Linked DNA regions of Homo sapiens. The protein of the gene in region 3 purifies or fractionates together with the protein of the main gene of each other region. This does not show direct contact. Each region holds a gene or a part of one and is shown on either strand. Other genes may lie near its edges.

Region 1 (8,261 bases), on a different chromosome or scaffold from region 3:
ACCCACAGCCAACATCACACTCAATGGTGAACGACTGAAAGCTTTTCCCCAAAGATCAGCAACAGGGCAAAGATACCCGCTTTTGCCACTTCTATTCAAGATAGTACTGAAAGTCCTAGCCAGAGCAATTAGACAAGAAAATAAAAGGCATCCACATTGGATAGGGAGTAAAATTATATTTTTTCACCAATGACATGATCTTATAGCGATTCTATAAAAACAGAATAATTAACAAATTCAGCAAAGTTGTCAAATACAAAATCAACACACAGAAATCAGTTGCATTTCTATATAGTACTAGCAGTGAACACTTCATGAAGGAAATTAGCAGTTTCATTTAAATAGCATCAAAAAGAATAAAATACATAGGAATTAACCAAGGAGGTGAAAGACTTGTACACAGAAAACTACAAAATATTGTTGAAAGAAATTAAAGAAGACATAATTAAATGGAAAGACATCCTGTGTTCAATTATATCCATTTAAAGACACAATTAAATGGAAAGACATCCTGTGTTGGAAAGTTTAATATTGTTCACATGTCAGTACTACCCAAAGTGGTCATCAGAGGCAATGCAATCCTATTAACATCCCAACAGTGTTTTTTTAGAAATATAAAAACCTATCACAGGCCAGGTTCGGTTGTTCATGCCTGTAATCCCAATATTTTGCCAAGCCTAGGAGTTCAAGACCAGCCTGGGCAATATAACGAGACCCTAGCTTTAACAACAACAACAACAAAAAGCCAGGTGTGGTAGCACATGTCTGTAGTCATAGGTACTTTAGAGGTTGAGGCAGGAGGATCACTTGAGCCCAAGAATTTGAGGCAGCAGTGAGCTATTATCAGGCTACTAAACTCTAGTCTGGGTGACAGGGGAGACCCTGTGTCTAGTTTAAAAAAAAAAAAAAAAAGGCCGGGCACGGTGGCTCACGCCTGTAATCCCAGCACTTTGGGAGGCCGAGATGGGTGGATCACGAGGTCAAGAGATCAAGACCATCCTGGCTAACACGGTGAAACCCTGTCTCTACTAAAAATAAAAAAAATTAGCCAGGCGTGGTGGCGGGTGCCTGTAGTCCCAGCTACTCAGGAGGCTGAGGCAGGAGAATGGCGTGAACCTGGGAGGCAGAGGTTGCAGTGAGCCGAGATTGCACCACTGCACTCCAGCCTAGGCGACAGAGCAAGATTCTGTCTCAAAAAAAAAAATAAAAAAAATAAAAAAGAAAGGAAGATAAAACCCATCCTAAAATTCATATGGAATCTGTAGGAACTCCTAATAGCCAAAACCATCTTGAAAAAGAACAAACTTAGAGGCTTCTCACTTCCTGATTTCAAAATTTAAAACAAAGCCACAGTAATCAAGACTGTGTAGTTTGAACACTGTACTTTCCTGAAAAAAGAAAGACAGACATACAGACCAATGGAACAGACTAGAGAGCCTGGAAATAAACCCTTGCATATATGGTCAAATGATTTTCAACAAGGGTACTAAGATAGGGAAAGGATAGTCTTCAACAAATCATGCTGGGACATCTGGATATTCAAATGCAAAAGAATGAAGCTGGATCCCTACCTAACACCGTATGTAAAAATGAACTCAAAATGGGTCAAAGTCCTAAATATAAAGACCTAAACCTATAAAACTTAGCAGAAAACATAGGGCAAAACTTCATAGCACTGGATTTGGCAATGATTTAGATATAACACCACCACTACCACCAACATATAGACAAATTAGACTTGGAAATTAATGAAATTAATTTAGTGAAATTAAGTTAATGACATTTTAATGAAAATGAAAAACTTCTGTGTATCAAAAGACACTATCAACAGAGTGAAAAGGCAGCCTATGGAGAAATACTTGCAAATGATATATCTGACAAGGGATTAATATCCAGAATATCTAGAAAAATCTTACAACTCAACAATAAAAACAAAAATCCAGTGAAAAATGGGCATAGGACTTGAATAGCCATTTCTCCAGTGAAGATATACAAATGGCCAATAACAGGAAAAGATGCTCAATCTCACTAGTCATTAGAGAAATGCAAATTAAAATCACAATGGGACACCACTTCATACCGTTAGGATGGCTATTGGAAAAAAACAAAAGAGAAGGTAACCAAGTGTTGGTGAGGATGTGGAGAAGTTGGAACTCCTGTGCACTGTTGGTGGGAATGTAAAATGGTTCACTTGCTATGGAAAAGTTTGGCAATCTCTCAAAAAGTCAAACAAAATATTACCGTATCATTCAGCAATTTCACTCTTATGTACTGAAAGCAGGGACTCAAACATATACTTGTACACTAATGTTCATAGCAGCATTATTCACAATAGCCAAAAGGTGAAAACAACCCAAGTGTCAATCAACAAATGAATAAACAAAATCTGGTCAATGTGTACAAAGGAATATTACACAGCCTTAAAAATGAAGGAAGTTCTGACACATGCTACGATGTGGATGAACCTTGAAAACATGTTGAGTGAAATAATCCAGTCACAAAATGATAAATACTGTATGATTCCACTTATATGAGGTACCTAGAGTAATTAAATTCACAGAGACAGAATATAGAATGATGGTTACCAGGGGTTGCGAGTGGGAGGGGAAGAGGAGTTAATGTTCTGGAGTGAAGAAAAAGTTCTAGAAATAAATAGTGATCACTGGATATACAACAGCATGAATGTACTTAATGCTCCTGAACTGTATACCTAAAAATGGCTAAAATGGTAAATGTTACTATATTTTACCACAATAAAAAAACAGTCATATGTCACTTAACTGTGGGGATACACTCTGAGAAATGTGTCACTAGGCGATTTTGTCATGGAGGGATCCTCATAGAGTAACTTACACAAACTAAGATGGTAGAGCCTACTACACACCTAGGCTGTATGGTAAGGCCTGTTGCTCCTGGGCTACAAACTTGCACAGTGACTCTACTGAACAATGTAGGCAATTGTGACACAGTGGTATTAGTGCACCTAATCATAGCAAAGGTACAGTAAAAGTACAGTGCAAAAAATAAAAAATAGAACTGGTTAGGGCACTTGCCATGAACAGAGGTGCAGGACTGGAAGTTGCTGTGGGTGTGAGTGGTGAGTGAATGTGAAGGCCTAAGACATTATTGTACACTACTTTAGACTTTATAAACACTGTACACTTAGGCTGCAACACACTTATATTAAACATTTTCCTTTTTTTTTGAGATGGAGTCTCACTCTATTGCCCAGGCTGGAGTGCAGTAGCACAATCTCAGCTCACTGCAACCTCCGCCTCCTGGGTTCAAGCGATTCTCCTGCCTCAGCCTCCCAAGTAGCTGGGATTACAGGCACATACCACCACGCCCGGCTAATTTTTTGTATTTTTGGTAGAGACAGGGTTTCACCATGTTGACCAGGCTGGTCTCAAACTCCTGACCTCAAATGAGCTGCCCGCCTTGGGCTCCCAAAATGCTGGGATTACAAGCATGAGCCTCCACAGCGCCTGGCCTAAAAATTTTCTTTCTTCAATAATAAAATAACTATAGCTTACTGGATGACCAGTTACATATGTGGTCCCTAGTTGACCAAAACGTTGTTATGCGGTGCATGACAGTTATACACAGGAGAGGGCCTGAAAGAAAAAAAAAATTTGGACCAAAAAAGGCCTTTTCTGGCTCAGTTGGATTCATTTCTTCCACAGGCCCACTGCCCACTCTGCTGATGGGCGCTGAGCTGTAGACTGAGCTGCCTTGAGGCTGAGGTAAGCTGAATTTGTGGGAACCCCCACCTTTCCCTTGAGGGAGGAAGTTTAAATTATCAGGTCAATTAGGAAAGATACAACCGAAAAAAATCCAAATTTCATTCCCACTTCAAGGAGGCGTTTCCTGGCTCGGTGCCACTTTTATTATTTTTGGCCCAGGCTGCTGAAAGCCCCACAGACCCAGGGAAGGTACAATGTGACCTTTGATTCGCGTTTCAGGGATCAAAGTGAGTGAGTTTGGGTGTAAATGCAGATAACATTTCAGAGAGCTTTCATGAAAGGAGTCACTGGACCAGGGCAGAAAGGGAGCTGGTGTGTTACGTGTGTGTTCCCCTTGAGAAGCGTCACTTTCCGGTGAATCCGGCTGCCTGCCCGTGGCCCCAAGGACTCCTGGCTTGCATCCAGGTCCTTGGCCCACAGGCATCAGATCCTGAGCTGGGGCGCCTGCACCCTCTCCCACCTCTTCTCTAGGCACCGTGAAGCCGAGGAGAGGTGGCGTGGGACGGCTTGTGCAAGTGAGAAGAGCACCACCACTTCATCCTCACCTATCTTGTCCCAGGATCTGGGTGCTGACTCGGCAGGCTTGGGCTGGGCACGGCCCTGTGGGGAGGGCTTGGTAGCCTGCCCTCGCTGTCGTCTCCGGGTCCAGCCTCGGCCTGAGTCGGGAAGCACACAATTATATCCACAACAAGGAGGCCCAGAGGCCCTGCCTGCAGCCCCCAGGTATGCAGGTAGAGGGTCCTCTCGGACTGCCTGCCCCCTGCCTCTGGCGCCCAGCCTGCAGCTACGTCGAACCGGGCCCTAACAAGGTTCCCCGCACTGGCAATGAGTGATGAGAGGCACTCCGCGGGCACGCCGTTCCAGGGCGCTCACGAGGCCCAGCAGCCCCGCTATGCCCACATCCACCCCGACACCTGCAGCCCCCCAGGCTTAGCCCGGCCCCGCAGCAGCCCTCTCGACGCCCAGCAGCACCCCAGTGTCTGGCTGACGCCAGGGCAGTAACGGCGGGCTGAAGCAGCATCGGCCCCTCGGTCTACGCCACAGCCGGGTGCAGATTTCCCGGATCTGAGGGACCGCCGGGCACCGTCCGCTGGGGATCATGAGGGGCAGCTTTGGCCCGACCGTCTCGCGCCTGTACACGCGGCCCCACCTGATCCCGTGGCACTTGGCGCGGCGTGGGAATGGGCGCGCTCTCCCATCACCCACCGCGCGGCACTGCCGCGCCAGCAGGGACCGGGAGAGCCTGCGAGGTAGCGGCCACACGGCATACAGCGCAGGCGCGGCCTGGATGGGAGGAGCGCGTGGAGCGTGCCGGGAGCATGCGCCGGGTCGTACACGGCGGCCGCGCGCACGCTGGGGGCGTGGCTGCGCGATGTAATCGGTCTCTGGACGCTGCGCGGCGCTCCTAGGAGCAGGCGTTCCCGACTCCGGCAAGAGGGTCAGTGTGGAGGCGGGAGCCCGGGCGGCCGGCTTGAACTCCGTGCACGCGGGCCTGGAGCTGCGCCCCTGCGTCTTTTCCCGACTTCTGATCCGCAGAGGGGCACTCGGAGCCCCAGCCTGGGTCGCAGTGCCTTCGGTCTGCGGGCCTCAGTTTCTCGGTCCGCGCCGGGGGTTTGTGGGGGCACCTGGAGACATTTGGGCCGTTCTCGCAGTCTCGGGAAGCCGCGCCCGCTCCTTGCCTGGCCTCACGGCGGCCGATCTCGTTCTCCACTTTCTAGGTGGCGCCTGGACTCTCGCCCTCAGAGGGAGGCCCGTCCCACGGTCTGTGGCTACGGATCCCAGGACCCTCTTCGCGGGCGATTCGCGTAGCCTCAGGTGGGTGGGCTTCTTGTTGCCGTGGGCCTTGTGAGCTCGTATTTCCTGCATGGCGGTTGCTGGGGGGCGGGCGGTGCAGTCGTCTGCACTCAGCTTGCTTTAAGGCTTTGGGCAGGTTTTGTTCTTGGGGCTCCTGGGTCTCCCCAGAGCAGAGAACGGCTCCAGCGTTCCAGGTGCTGCCTTTGGCCTTGTGGGGGCAAACACACATGCGCCGTGGTACCTGCCCCTTTAGGATAGTGCTGTCCAGTCTAGAAGGGCCGAAAGTCTTCTATGCCAGGCAGTGTGGGGAGAAAAGTAGGGGGACCAACAGACTGATAGGCGTGGGAGGGCTAAGGTTCTCAAAATGGTGAGAGTGCGGCCCAGGGTTAGGAAGGCTCAGGCCCAAAGCAGGCCTGGCTGGCTGGTGCAGGGAAGCCTTCTCCCAGACTGCAGGGGACACAGGTGCGCAGGTGAGTGGGCAGGGTAGGGGACTGGGAAGAAGGGAAGGCAGAGATCTGGGTAGCACACTGTGGCTCCCGGGCATGGGGTGTGGTCATTGTGGGCAACCTGGATACCTAACCTTGGCTGGTGGTGGGAGCTGGGCCCTGGATCGGGGTCACTGCTTTTTTAGAGCTCAGTGAGGGACTGGACTGGACTCGACTCACGTCCAGGCCTTAGTATAATCCTGCAGTAAGGTGGGAAGCCAGGGTCATGGGCTGGGCTTTCAGGTGAAGACCCCCCCCCCAGAGGGGGGTCAGACCTGAGGGATTCCAGAGTGTTTGGGTGGTGGAGGTAGGGCCAGTGGCCCTGGCAGGTTCTAGTGCTGCAGGCCACCCTGGGAGGTACCTGGAGGAACTCACCCTGAGGGGGGATGGCCAGCAGATAGGAGATGTGGGATGAAGGTGTGTGCAGGCCTTGTGCTCCCAGTGAGCCGGTGGCGTTTGTGTGTGGGGTGAAGCAGAGAGTTTCCTGGAGGTCGTGAGTGGGCCTCCGTTTGCAGAGAGACTGGGGAGGGGGCTAGATAGAGTTAGGCTGCAGAGTGTAAGAGCCCTACAGGAGGGCTCCTTGCACTGGAATAGAACTGGCTACTGGCTCTGGAGCCTCCTAGGTGACTGCTGCGTGGAGAAGGAGGGGCGGGTCCAGCCATCAGACTGGGACTCCCCAGACCCTGGGCACAAGTGACTGGAGTGGCGGGAGCAGACAGCAAGTGGGGTTCCAGGATTTTACAATGGTGGGGGCTGGGATGCTCTGCTGTGGCTGGGATGGGGACTGTGGAAAGGTGGTGTTTGTGGGTGGGGGTGGCATTGCCTGCAGGTGGCACTCAGTTGTGAGAGGTGAATTTGGAAAGCATGTGGGGTCAGGAGGGAGCAGAGAATAGCAGGCTCACTGCTCTGTCGGGGAAGCAGGTAGGACCTGCTGTGTGCCTGGTGCTGGGATGTAAAAGAGCCTAATGACGACGCGGTCTGTGCGTTGTTCAGAGTTTTTGGGGCGGCTAGAGCCTACTCAGCAGACAAATGTAGTTTATAATCGCGTGCTGTATAGTAGTTAAGCCTCTGGTCTCTCCAGCCAGTTTTTGCTGCTTCCACCACTTATGGGTTAGTGTGTGGCTGCAGACAAGTTACTTCACCACTGTGTGCCTCAAAGACAATGCTAGTACCAACCTCCTGTGGGGGAGGTGGCACAAATGGGGCACTCAGTGAAAGGTTACTACTATTGCTATCCTGAAATTCCTGACAGTTCTGATCTGGCCCCTTTTCTTCTGAAATTGACAGCATCTGTCATTCTGCCTTGCCCTTGCAATGTCATAGGCAGCATTTGCCCACCTCAGACCTCCCAGGCCAGCCCCCTGGGCCCCTCCTTCCATTCAAAGCTCCTAGTTGGGTACCAGAGGGTTGCCCGCTTGTAGCCTCTTCCCACCAGTCCAGTGGGTGATGGTTAGGCCTAGTTCCTGCTCTTCCCCACCTTGTCTTTGGACAGATTGCCTCGGATGATGGCCTGCGACTGACAGTCTCTCAGCTCTTCTCAGCTCTCCTGAGGCTGCAGCTGTCAGCTCCCTGATCCTCAGCACTTGCCTGGACCAGTGCGGGTCTGCCACGCCCTGTTCAGCCATCCCTGTCCTGTTGTGTCGTGCAAGCCACATCTGTCCACACCCCCACCACCCACCAGTGCTGGCTCTCCTCTCTTCTCCCCTGTGCTCCCAGCATGCCTCGTGGCCGGTGCCGTCAGCAGGGCCCTCGCATTCCCATCTGGGCAGCCGCCAATTATGCCAACGCACATCCATGGCAGCAGATGGACAAGGCGTCTCCTGGGGTGGCATACACCCCCCTTGTGGATCCCTGGATTGAGCGGCCCTGCTGTGGGGACACCGTGTGTGTGCGAACGACCATGGAGCAGAAGAGCACAGCTAGTGGCACTTGTGGCGGTAAACCTGCAGAAAGGGGTCCCCTAGCTGGGCACATGCCCAGCTCCCGACCCCACAGGGTGGACTTCTGCTGGGTACCAGGCTCAGACCCAGGCACCTTTGATGGCTCCCCGTGGCTACTGGACCGCTTCTTGGCCCAGCTGGGCGATTACATGTCCTTCCACTTTGAGCACTATCAGGACAACATCAGCCGTGTCTGCGAGATCCTCAGGCGCCTAACAGGCCGAGCCCAGGCCTGGGCAGCCCCCTACCTTGATGGGGACCTGCCCCTGCCTGACGATTACGAGCTCTTCTGCCAGGAT
Region 2 (7,970 bases), on a different chromosome or scaffold from region 3:
TCTCCATATGTTCTTCCCCACCCCTAAAACACTTTTATGTGTCATCTTAGCAGATTGGAAAGGAGTTTAGAATCAATGAAGGACGTTAGCAATGGGTTTGTACATTTCTCTTTTTTATTTCTATGCCTTGCTTATTTTCAAAAACAGGTTTTAACTTCTATAACATTTTCCAAATAGCACTGCTGGAAAAAGAATAAATATATTTGCTTTTTTGGTATATCAGACTCTGCATTTCCTTCCTTTAAAAATTTCTTTTGCCATTTTTAACTTTATTTCCTGAAAAAATTAGCATTAAATATTATTTTTATCCATAGTTGAAAAAAACTAAAGCATCCATTTTACATTTCTATATTGAAGAAGTTTGAACATATAACACATATATTTACAGTTTATAACTCACTTTTACATATGTTGCCTCAATGCAAAATTTTGCTTAACTTTAACACAGCTTAAACATAATATTGCCCATATGACAGTCTTGCTTTTGATATTATCTTATAATCTACAATGGTAAAAGCTGGGAAACAGTTTCAAAGTTTGTAGCTTGGTATGTCAAACAGAATTTGACTTTCACAATTTGTCTAAAATCTTTTTGCCAAAAATGCACAACACAGTTTTATAAAGAAAGGGGGAGGAGCTTAGTTGAAGCAATTTATAGACCGTGGAGTGAGAAGTGATGTCCAGAGATTAAGCAGTCAACTTATTCATCCACTGTGGCAGATGGTTTTCTGTCCTTCCCTTGATGGTTTCCAGGAATAACACATCCATAGTCTTCTAAATTAGCTGATTTGTCAATTGATTTGAATACATGTTATAGGTTGTTCTTTATTTCCTAAATTTTATTTTTGCAGTTTAACTTGTTAATTCTTTTTCTTTTTGAAAAGAGAATAGTCAACTTCTTTGGAAAATGGTTCTTAATTTATCTGCAGCCCTATTTTGAAATAAAGTGTATATGGTAAAAGAAAGATTTGTACCATTTCAATTTTTTTTGTTAAGGATTGAGACTTGAATGGCAAAAAGTTGTCTGTCTGTTTTTGAGACGGGGTCTTGCTCTGTGGTCCAGGCTGGAGTACAGTGACACGATCATGACTCACTTCAGCCTTGAACTTCTGAGCTCAAGTTATCCTCCAGCCTCAGCCTTAAATATATATATTTTTTAATTTGACAAATTTATACTTGTGGTAGGTGAAATGTTTGAATAAAGAAGTAATATAACAGGTAGTTATTTTTCCCCCAATTATAACATGACATACTTCAGTACTTGCTATTATATGTCCTGAGGTGAATCTGGTTCATTGACTCATGAGCACATCCATTAAGTGTGTGTTACAGAAACACCTTATTTATTTATTTGTTTGTTTGAGACAGGGTCTGGCTCTGTCACCCAGGCTGGAGTGCAGTGGTGCAATCTCGGCTCACTGCAACTTCCGCCCCGGCGGGCTCAAGTGATTCTCCCACCTGGGCCTCCCAAAGTGCTGGGATTACAGGTGTGAGCCATCATGCCCAGCCTATTTATTTTAATATATGCTTTGTTGCCCTTCTTTGGAAAAAGTCTTATTCTGGTTATTCTGTTATTTCTTGTTCTTGTGCTGCAAATCCCTCCATTTGGTGAGTCCACTGACTATCTCTCATCATGGTTCATTTTCTATTCTGGTCTGTAACTTTTTACTGTGATGCATCATTAGTAAAGGTTTAGTCTGTTGTATGTTTTGGAAGCATTCCTGCAAAGAGTTTTCACATTTGCTCTTACCAGGTCCTAAAGTTTTACCAGTTCAGGACTACTTTTCTTTTTTCAGTTTTTGGCATGAGGATAGGGTGGGATTCTAAACCATGAAGGTTGTGTGAATTTAGGCCCACACTCTATGCATGGTTCATGCCTCATATGGTTCTGATTTCCTCTGGTGACTTTCCCCCCATTGCCTTAGTTGATGTCATGCCTACTTGGGTTTCCTGGCCAGTAAGCTAAGTTTTTATAGTCCTGGTTTCATGGATAGGGTGATCCTTTCAGAGTTTTGACTTTATGAAGGTCCTTCCAACTGTGACCTGTGTCTTTAAATAACGTCTCTGAATGGGTGTTAGGGAGTCCCCTTGTAACCATTATGGCCTGTAACTGGTTCCATGAGTCATGTTAGCTTCAGCCCCTGACCTCTGTTCATTGACTTTCTTTTTTCTGCTCATTGACTTTCTTTCTTTCTTTTTTTTTTTTTTTTGAGACGGAGTTTTTCTCTTGTTGCCCAGGCTGGAGTGCAATGGCATGATCTTGGCTCACTGCAATCTCCACCTCTTGGATTCAAGCGATTCTCCTGCCTCACTCTCCCGAGTAGCTGGGATTACAGTCATGTGCCACCATGCCTGGCTAATTTTATATTTTTAGTAGAGACGGGGTTTCTCTGTGTTGGTCAAGCTGGTTTCAAACTCCTGACCTCAGGTGATCCACCTGCCTCAGCCTCCCAAAGTGCTGGGATTACAGGCGTGAGCCACCATGCCCAGCTAACTTTCTTCTTAGTTTCTTACTACTGTGGATTCTCTGCACTTCTTTCAAGTTCAGTTATTTAAGTAGTGTTTCAGTGCTTATATTTTTAAATATTTCATTGTGTTTGGATCTGTTTGGGTTTGAGAGGCAAAAGGATGCTGTTATACAATTTAAAATTATTTTAGATTTTTATAATTTTTAATTTGCTCATCACCTATCAACATGTCAAATATTTTGTGCCTATTATGTACTGTGTACTTTGAGAAATAAAGATCTTTGGCTAGATTCCCTCCTTCAAGAGACTTATTCCTAATATAAACCCTAGTGGAACTAAGGTATATATCTCATAAAAATGCAGTGCCAGTAGGTATCAGAAAGTAAGGCTACTGATGTGGAAAAAAGTGGTTGGAAAAGAAATGATAGAGGAAGCGAGACTTAACGTAAAATACGAAGAGTGGTTAGAACTTGATTGGGTTTGCTGGGTTAGACAAGAAGAGATTGGTCCAGCTTGAAGAGAGCCTTAAAATACCAAACCAAATAATTTAGATTATATCTTGCAGATAAGAAAAAGGCATTGGAGGTTTTTCAGTGGAAGGGACATTTAGTGCAAATAATGTTTTATAATCTTAGTGCTGAAGTTTTGGAAGACTAGTGCATTGCTCTATTAAAGAAAAGTTGGGGCAGGGCGTGGTGGCTTACACCTGTAATCCCAGCACTTTGGGAGGCCGAGGCAGGCAGATCACCTGAGGTCAGGAGTTCGAGATCAGCCTTGCTAACATGGTGAAACCCTGTTTCTACTAAAACTACAAAAAATTAGCTGGGCATGATGGTGTATGCCTGTAGTCCCAGCTACTCAGGAGGATGAGGCATGAGAATCGCTTGAAACCAGGAGGCAGAGGTTACAGTGAGCCGAGATTGCGCCAGGGCACTCCAGCCTGGGCGGCAAGAGAGACACCCTGTCTCGAAAAAAAAAAAAGAAAAGTTGGTACATCTCCCTTCTTAGAAGTTAAACTCAAGACTTTACAGGTACAAAAATAAGTTTGTTTTATAGTTCCTTGTTGTCAACAAAAGTTTACCTACTCAATGAGGATGGGCCCCAGCCTATGTTGTAAATGAGTGGAGCTGGCTGGGAACGAGAGTGGCCACTGAGAGAGCTCATGCCTCTTGGGATCTTGTTGATTGTTAAAGGTTACAAACTAGATCAAATTTTTAAAAAACACTGTTTGGCCTCAGTGAAATATGTATACAAACATAGTTTGAAACAAAAGCTGTGAGTTTGCAACCTCTTTATAGATAGCGTTCATTATTAAATCTTTATTATATTCTATCATAACATTTAAAAAATACATTATTTAAAATTGTGTACAAAATAGAAAAATGTGGCCTGTTTGATTTGAAGGGTTGAATAAGTGGCTATTTATAATTTTGGATATTTTGACTTTGTGACTTGGACATAAAAATATTTTCCAAAACTCTTTTCTTACAGGTAAAAGAATGTCACATGTCAGCATTTGTACCTGAAGTCAGCATGCAAAGTTCAGGGTACCTGGATGAATGCCAACTTTTGCATTTCCCATGTGTATCCTGTGACCATTCTATCTGGGGTGAGTGATTTCTAAGAGTAGCTGGCAACAAACCAGATGCCAGCCAGCCATGGACTGCCCTAACAAATAATGCTAGGAGTTATAAATTAAACACTGATCTGTGATCTGTGATGTGTAAGGCAGTTAATGTAGTTCATCTGGATTAACTGTCAGCACCAAAGAACTATATTCCCATAATGTGAAATCTGAATTCTGTATGTTTGAAAGAGAGTAATAATTAACAGTAGGGAATTTTTGTTAACATGTAAAATTACAGCAATGTCTAAGATTATTTTGAATTTACAGCAGTATTTTAGTGGTTCACCATATAATTTAAATAATTTTAATTTTCAGATTCAAAGACTTAGTATTTCTTGAGTGATGGTTATAATTTTGTATAAAATACGGCTTTTTGGATTGTATATCTTCCAATTGCCTTATAATATAGTTTTGCTTCCCATATTGTATGCATAACAATATTTAGGTTTCTTAAAAATACATTAGAAAATTTATTTATACCAGACTTCACATTTGTATTTTAAAACTTGTTTTTTTAGTTTCATTCTGAGAAATTACATTGAGGGTAGAGCCTGTTCATTACCTTATCCATGCATTTTTCTGCTTATTTAAATTATTTTACTTCACCAAGCCATTCATTTTTTTAGAACATCCTTCAAAGAGTTCATGCATCTTACTGAGGACACCTGACCTTTTGAAGCTTCATAATTCACATCTAGATGTCACCGGTCTTTCCCATGTTAACAGTTCTGACCATGTTTTATTATATATGCCTTCGGCGCCGAGCCAGGACAGCTACAAGAGGAGAAATGATGAACACCCATAGAGCTATAGAATCAAACAGCCAGACTTCCCCTCTCAATGCAGAGGTAGTCCAGTATGCCAAAGAAGTAGTGGATTTCAGTTCCCATTATGGAAGTGAGAATAGTATGTCCTATACTATGTGGAATTTGGCTGGTGTACCAAATGTATTCCCAAGTTCTGGTGACTTTACTCAGACAGCTGTGTTTCGAACTTATGGGACATGGTGGGATCAGTGTCCTAGTGCTTCCTTGCCATTCAAGAGGACGCCACCTAATTTTCAGAGCCAGGACTATGTGGAACTTACTTTTGAACAACAGGTGTATCCTACAGCTGTACATGTTCTAGAAACCTATCATCCCGGAGCAGTCATTAGAATTCTCGCTTGTTCTGCAAATCCTTATTCCCCAAATCCACCAGCTGAAGTAAGGTAAGACTAATTTTTTAATGACCTAAGTTATATGGTAGAAAGGTTTTGGTTGTTAATATTGGAGATCTTTTTTATTGCAAGCATTCTTTTAAGTAACTTAATTGAATTTGATTTTGAAAATTTTCCTTAGTTTTCTGATGGGGAAGAGAGATCACTCATATAAAGATTTAATTCAGGCTTTATACCTGTAATACCTCATACTGTAATATTCATGGCTTATGATATTTGTATCTCATAAAATTTACCAAAACCAAAAAGCACAATTTGAACTCATAGGGACATGGGCCATTCTGGGACGTTAGTACGAAATATGACTTTGAAAATATTTTCAAACAGGCATCATGTTACTACTTTTAAATCTTTTCAACAACTCACAATAGGCCTGTGAGTGACACTTCAGAGGAGGTCCTTAGGGGATTTGGTTTAACGTTAGTTGAATGTTTTTGCAACACCCATATTCATTTAAAAATCAATGTTGCTTTAAGTAATTCATGCATTCTCCCTACAAGCCTGTTTTGCATAACAGCTCCTTGGCTGTCGTTTTTGTCATTCAACCTCCTAATTTTACAAAATATTAATATAATGCAGTCTCACATGTACCCTGTTCTCCATGTGCCTAGGACCCATTCCTCCCTCGAAGAAACCACTTTTATCAGCTCATTTTGTATCTTTCCAGAATTTCTTTGTGCAGACACAAGCAAATACAAATATAATTTTATATTTTTATACACAAAAGTAAGCATATTTATCACACTGTTCTGTACCTTGTTTCACACAGTAGTATATGTTGGATCTTTTCTTGTAAGTACAAAGAGAGCTTCCTCATTCTTTCCTGCATTTGCAAGTAATGCATAGTGTGTATGAACCCCAACTTATTAACTAGTCCCCCATTGATGGGCACTTAGTTGTTTCTAGTCTTTTGCTCTTATAAACATTAATGCAGGGAATGACCTTATCATAAGTCACTTTGCATGTGTGCAAGTATATCTGTGGGATAAATTTCCTAGAAGAAGGCTACTCAACCAAGGATAATTTGATAATTTTGTAATGTTTAACATTTTTTTTTTGCATTTTAACAATTTATTCTTAGTTACATTTAATTTTAATTTTTAACAGTTGTAATTTTCATATGTAATGCCAAATTTCTCTCCAAAGAGTCTGTACTATTTATATTCCCACTAGCAGGGCATGTACATGGGTGTTTTGCCAAAGCCTCGCCTACAGAGTATGTTTATAAATTTCAATATTTTTGCAATTTAATAGGTGAAAAATGTTATCTCATGTTAACTGTTAAAATTCTTTTATTATCTCTGAGGTTGAAATCTTTTCATATGTTTAAAAGCCATTTATATTTCTTTTTCCTTTAACTATCTGATCATATTATTTGCTCATTTTTTCTATTACTCATGGATCTTAGCAGTTTCTAGGACTTCATATCACTTTATTAAATCACTCGTTCATTAAATATTTTAGTGCCTACCTAATGTGCTAGGTGTTGTTCTAGGTATTAGAGATGTGTCAGCGAGCAGTGAACAAAATAAATAAAAATTCCCGCTCTCATTCTAGCCTGAGAGCAGATCAGGGCACCTGTTCAACTGTAGGGATGGCCAGCTGCCAGTGCAGGAGGAGGCGGGCAGAGGTCAGCTGCTACCTCCGTAACATGCAGCTCCTCTGATATCTCTGTCCCCTCATCTCTAAGGGAATACTTCCAGGGCCTGCCAGAAAACATACAGAGTACAGCTCAACTTGGAGATTGCTGGTATAATCTTTACTTTTTTTTCCAGAACTACCTAATAATTCATTGCAAATAATGTTATTAGTCGTTTTTTAAACTCAGAAAGCCAGCATACCTTAATTAAAATCAGATTTTTGTTTTCTCCCTAAGAGGAAAAAATGGAGTAGGATCTTTTGTTTTGTTTTGAGACAGGGTCTCACTCTGTCGCCCAGGCTGGAGTGTAGTGGCACGATCTTGGCTCACTGCAACCTCTGCCTCTCGGGTTAATGAGATTCTCCTGCCTCAGCCACCTGAGCGGCTGGGATTACAGGTGCGTGCCACCATGCCTGGCTAATTTTTGTATTTTTAATAGAGATGGGGTTTCACCAGGTTGGGCAGGCTGGTCTCGAACTCTTGACCTCAGGTGATCCGCCTGCCTCGGCCTCCCAAAGTGCTGGAATTACAGATGGGAGCCACTGTGCATGGCAGGATCTTTTCTTATATGAGAATTGTTTTATTAGGACTCTGACATTCTTCTTACAAAGTTACCTACTTTTTTCCAAAAATCTGAAAAGATTTAGGGAGGAGATCAATGGAACATGTAATGTGTTTTCTCCAGTCTAAAACTTAACAGCTGCATAACTAATTTTAAGTACAAATCATGCTCTTGGGTTACTGAGAGTTACTGGTATATGGTTGTGATTAAAGTTAAAACTTTATTTATACCTGTATCTCTAATTTTCTTTACTGATTTTCAGCTTTAGTCTACTGAAAATACCATTACATTTTAAGAGAAAAAAAGGTGACCAATATATTATTAAGATATAAGAAAAAGCCTTTTTAAATTTTACTGATTATGAAATCAATAGATGTTTCATTGTTTAAAAATAATCTAGAAAATACCAAAAAAAAAGGAAAATATATATGAAAAAAATCTGTAATTCTTCTGCC
Region 3 (4,955 bases):
GAAGAAAAAATAAGCTTTATAATAGTTGGTTTGGAAAACTAGAGCGAACACAGCATTTCTTATGGATGATGGGAGAAGATGGAATTAACACCAGGCTGATATTAGTTGACAACAAATATCAGAGTGCTTGCTCTGTGCTCTAGTTAATTTGTCAGATTTCACAGGGATTTTTGGTACAAGAAAGCTTTGTGGAATATATGCATTCTATGCGCCAGGCTTAGTGCAAGGTATTATTAGAGAAAAAAGACTTAAAATAGAAGGTACTCTATAGCTATATTAGATCAGGTCAGCACTTGGGAAAGTTAGCTTATAGACCCAGTTTTGCCATTAAATACAGAACTTCATAAAGTTCTATGGCTTCTCTGGGCCTCAGCTTCTTCATCAATAAAATGGGCAGAGGTGAACCAGACGACCTCTAAGGTTCCTTTAGATTCTAAAATGATGTAATTTTTAAAACCTTTGAAATGTTTATTCAGGTCTTCTCTCCTTGAGGTGTTCTTGGGACCGGAGATATTCCATTTGAAACCCTGAGACAACCATACCTCAAGCTCAGAGTGCTTAAGAATTTTCTGCCAGGTGCGGTGGCTCACACCAGTAATCCCAGCATTTGGGGAGGCCAAGGCGGGCGGATCATGAGGTCAGGAGATCGAGACCATCCTGGCTAACACGGTGAAACCCTGCCTCTACTAAAAATACAAAAAAATTAGCCAGTGCAGGCCGGGCGCGGTGGCTCACGCCTGTAATCCCAGCAGTTTGGGAGGCCAAGGCGGGCGGATCACGAAGTCAGGAGATCGAGACCATCCTGGCTAACATGGTGAAACCCCGTCTCTACTAAAAATACAAAAAATTAGCCGGGCGTGGTGGCGGGTGCCTATAGTCCCAGCTACTTGGGAGGCTGAGGCAGGAGAATGGTGTGAACCCGGGAGGCGAAGCTTGCAGTAAGCCGAGATCGCGCCACTGTACTCCAGCCTGGGCGATAGAGCGAGACTCTGTCTCACAAAAAAAAAAAAAAAAAAATTAGCCGGTGTGGTGGCGGGCGCCTGTAGTCCCAGCTACTCGGGAGGCTGAGTCAGGATAATGGCGTGAACCTGGGAGGCAGAGCTTGTAGTGAGCCGAGATCGCGCCACTGTACTCCAGCCTAGGCGACAGAGCGGGACTCCATCTCAGAAAAAAAAAGAAAAAAAGAATTTCCCAAAAGAAGGTATCCTTTAGGTTTTCATCCCTATGCCCCAGTCTGGAATCTCTACACACAGAATTGTGGACAGACTTATAGTCCAGATTGACAATGGCTAGTGATAGATACACTTTATTGTTGCCACTGGCATCAAATTTAAAAGCTTAGGCTGGCAAGCAAGGCCTCTCATTAAACAACCTTCCTTACCTCGTCTGTCCCTATCCGATAAAGCCCTTACTTTTCAGCTGAGTTGGTCACATCCATTTTCCCCTTCCTGTCTCTGTTCTTGCTGGTCCCTCCATCTGGATGGGCAGGGAAGGAAGAATAATGCATATCCGTTATTTCCTTCAAGACCAAGCCCTGTCTTACTTTATGTTTCAACAGCCATGAACACAAGGGATTTCTAGAATTCTACACTACCATACACTATGTTCCCCTGCTTCCTCATGGAGGTTCCTCTATTCTCCACAATTAGACTCTAAAGACGTGGTATTGAGTGGGCACTGACTGAAAGCTTATCTAGTTTATGAGTGGAGTGGAATCTCAGAAGGTAGAAGAATTAAAGGTTCAGGCCTCTCCTACCTTTATCCTGTATCAATCCCAAAACTCTTCTTTCTCCTCCATTATCTTTCCTGTCTATATAACTCCTTATCTTCAAGCTTAATGTAAGGGCAATTCCAGGCATGAAAAGACAACACAGTTTGTACTTTTGGTTTCATATTTTTTCAGTTAATTTCAGTAAAAACATAATATATAAAAGGCATTGCCACCATTTTCCCCTCCTGGGGGTGATCCATCAAGCCAGTGTGGGCTGCTCCAGTGGTTCATAGCTCATCATGCGATATGTGCAGGGCATGGTCACAAAGATCTGCAAATGGCAAACAATTTAAAGGAATATGCCATTCTCATACTGATATCTGCCAGTATCAAGAAAATTTCCCAGACCAAGCTGACACAAACACACACCAACCACCATTCTGCAGAATATATGCTTATAAATGATAAAACATCCCCACTGTCCTCTCACCTGTATCTCAGGGTCAAGGGGACACAAATTCTGAAAGCTGACAGAAAATGTGGAGGAACACCCCAAGTCCCTAAGCCAAGGGAAATGGAAGACAGCTCTTGACCTAATACCAGAGGTTTCTGGGATGGGGGTGTATGGGTGAGTTAGGGAATGTCAGGTTCCACAGAGCTACTAGAACAGGAGATAAAGTGGGGGCAGCTTACCTGTTCGCTTACTGCAAAGTTTGTCTTTAACATTGTCAGCCTCTCGGGAAAAGAATTCAATGAGTTCATCCTCGTATTCCTCCACAATGCTCTCACACTGCCAACCCAAGGGAGAAATGGGTGACACAGGGCAATAAGAGGCCTCTTGCCTTCACTTCCAAAGAGGAGGACAAGGATATCAGCCTAACTTTCTAATTGGTTCTCCAACAACCCCTTAATGTCCAAGAACCAGCTACCGATTCCCATAGCTCACCGCAAACTTGAGGGTGCCGCTAATATCTGAGTCGATTCGGATGCCTTGTAGGTCCAGTTCACTGGATTCTCCATTCCGGCCCACTACACGTACGTAGTTCTTGCGATGGGTGGAAGGATCAATCTGTTCCCCATACTCCTTCATCCGGTCACATATCTCCTCCAGCAGCTCTGTGAGGTGGGCCTCTGAGCGGGCATAAGGCACCTAGAAATGTCCTCAGCCTTGGGTCACTCTCTTCTACCTCTGTACATTAGTAATTTATATCCTTACTTTTCTTTCCAAATCTAGCTCCAACAACCTATTCTAAAAAGCTTTCCCTAATTGATTTTAATTAGTTTTGTTTGTTTGTTTGTTTTTTGAGATGGGGTTTTGCTCTTGTTGCCCAGGCTGGAGTGCATTGGCGCCATCTCGGCTTATTGCAACCTCTGCCTCCTGGGTTCAAGTGATTCTCCTGCCTCAGCCTCCTGAGTAGCTGGGACTACAGGCATGCACCACCACACCCAGCTAACTTTTGTATTTTTAGTAGAGATGGGGTTTCTCTGTGTTGGTCGGGCTGGTCTCAAACTCCAGACCTCAGGTGATCTGCCTGCCTCGGCATCCCAAAGTGCTGGGATTACAGACGTGAGCCACTGTGCCTGGCCTAGTGTGGTTTTCATTTATTTTATTTTATTTATTTATTTATTTTTTTGAGACGGAGTCTCACTCTTTCGCCCAGGCCGGACGCAGTGGCACTATCTTGGCTCAGTGCAAGCTCCGCCTCCAGGGTTCACACCATTCTCCTGCCTCAGCCTCCCGGGTAGCTGGGACTACAGGCGCCCACCACCACGCCCAGCTAATTTTTTGTATTTTTAGTAGAGACGGGTTTCACCGTGCTAGCCAGGATGGTCTCGATCTCCTGACCTAGTGATCCGCCCACCTTGGCCTCCCCAGGTGCTGGGATTACAGGCATGAGCCACCGCGCCCGGCCTGGTTTTAAATTAATATGGTTTACTTGATAGTTTCAAAGTACTTCTTTTTTTTTTTTTTTTTTTTTTTTTTGAGACAGGCCTCACTCCGTTGCCCAGGCTGGAGTGCAGTGGTGTGATGACTGAGGCTCACTACAGCTTGGATCTCCCAGGCTTAGGTGATCCTCCCATCTCAGCCTCACACAGATGCACACCACCACACCCAGCTACTTTTTTATATTTTTTTTGTAGAGACGGGGTCTTGCCATGTTGCCCAGGCTGGTCTCGAACTCCTGTGCTCAAGTGATCTGCCTGCCTTGGCCTCCAAGAGTGCTGGGATTACAGGTATGAGCCACTGTACTTGGCAGTAGTTTCAACTATATGATTTTATTTTACCTCATTGTACAATTCTTTTTTTTTTTCTTTTTTTTTTTGAGATGGAGTTTCACTCTTGTTGCCCAGGCTGGAGTGCAATGGCGCGATCTCGGCTCACCGCAAGCTCCACCTCCCGGGTTCAAGTGATTCTCCTGCCTCAGCTTCCCGAGTAGTTGGGATTACAGGCATGTGCCACCACGCCCAGCTAATTTTGTATTTTTAGTAGAGACGGGGTTTCTCCATGTTGGTCAGGCTGGTCTCAAACTCCCAACTTCAGGTAATCCACCCGCCTCAGCCTCCCAAAGTGCTGGGACTACAGGCATGAACCACCGTGCCCGGCACCTCATTGTACAATTCTAAGAAACAAGACAGTTAACATTAGCTCCAAGTTATAAACAGAATTTTTTGATTAACCTGATCAACTTATACTTCTAATTTCTATAGATGAAGATAATTTTTTTTTAAATTATAGTTTAAGTTCTGAGATACATGTGCAGAACGTGCAGGTTTGTTGCATAGGTATACATGTGCCATGGTGGTTTGCTACACCCATCAACCTGTCATCTACATTAGGTATTTCTCCTAATGCTATCCCTCCCCTAGCCCCCAACACCCCAACAGGACCTGATGTGTGACGTTCCCCTCCCTGTGTCCATGTGTTCATTAATATTTTATTTTTGGCCGGGCGTGGTGGCTCACGCCTGTAATCCCAGCACTTTGAGAGGCCGAGGAGGGTGGCTCACTTGAGGTCAGGAGTTCGAGACCATCCTGACCAACATGGAGAAACCCTGTCTCTACTAAAAATACAAAATTATCCAGGTGTGGTGGTGCATGCCTGTAATCCCAGCTACTCGGGAGGCTGAGGCAGGAGAATCGCTTGAACCCGGGAGGCAGAGGTTGCGGTGAGCCGAGATCGTGTCATTGCACTCCAGCCTGGGCAACAAGCCCTAAACTCCATCTCAAAAAAATAATAATAATT

The links.
Region 1: the proteins of CNPY2 (region 3) and GNB1L purify together in Homo sapiens (affinity purification with mass spectrometry; 2 studies listed by BioGRID and IntAct, with this or other methods). This does not show direct contact.
Region 2: the proteins of CNPY2 (region 3) and FBXL4 purify together in Homo sapiens (affinity purification with mass spectrometry; 2 studies listed by BioGRID and IntAct, with this or other methods). This does not show direct contact.

What each region holds. Positions count from the first base shown.
Region 1 is NC_000022.11:19,851,740-19,860,000, reverse strand, and holds the start of GNB1L (guanine nucleotide-binding protein subunit beta-like protein 1), read left to right. Parts: upstream 1-5,126; 5' UTR 5,127-5,181; exon of another isoform or gene 5,182-5,341; intron 5,342-5,461; 5' UTR 5,462-5,558; intron 5,559-7,514; exon of another isoform or gene 7,515-7,739; coding exon of another isoform or gene 7,740-8,261. Other genes in the region: RTL10 (protein Bop), read left to right, coding at 7,740-8,261. UniProt on the Homo sapiens protein: Acts as a critical regulator of DNA damage response (DDR) signaling via specifically regulating phosphatidylinositol 3-kinase-related protein kinase (PIKK) family proteins.
Region 2 is NC_000006.12:98,923,812-98,931,781, reverse strand, and holds part of FBXL4 (F-box/LRR-repeat protein 4), read left to right. Parts: intron 1-3,959; 5' UTR 3,960-4,077; intron 4,078-4,721; 5' UTR 4,722-4,793; coding exon 4,794-5,305; intron 5,306-7,970. UniProt on the Homo sapiens protein: Substrate-recognition component of the mitochondria-localized SCF-FBXL4 ubiquitin E3 ligase complex that plays a role in the restriction of mitophagy by controlling the degradation of BNIP3 and NIX mitophagy receptors.
Region 3 is NC_000012.12:56,308,554-56,313,508, forward strand, and holds the end of CNPY2 (protein canopy homolog 2 isoform 1 precursor), read right to left. Parts: intron 3,947-4,955; exon of another isoform or gene 2,862-3,946; coding exon 2,658-2,861; intron 2,502-2,657; coding exon 2,405-2,501; intron 2,043-2,404; coding exon 1,999-2,042; 3' UTR 1,291-1,998; downstream 1-1,290. UniProt on the Homo sapiens protein: Positive regulator of neurite outgrowth by stabilizing myosin regulatory light chain (MRLC). It prevents MIR-mediated MRLC ubiquitination and its subsequent proteasomal degradation.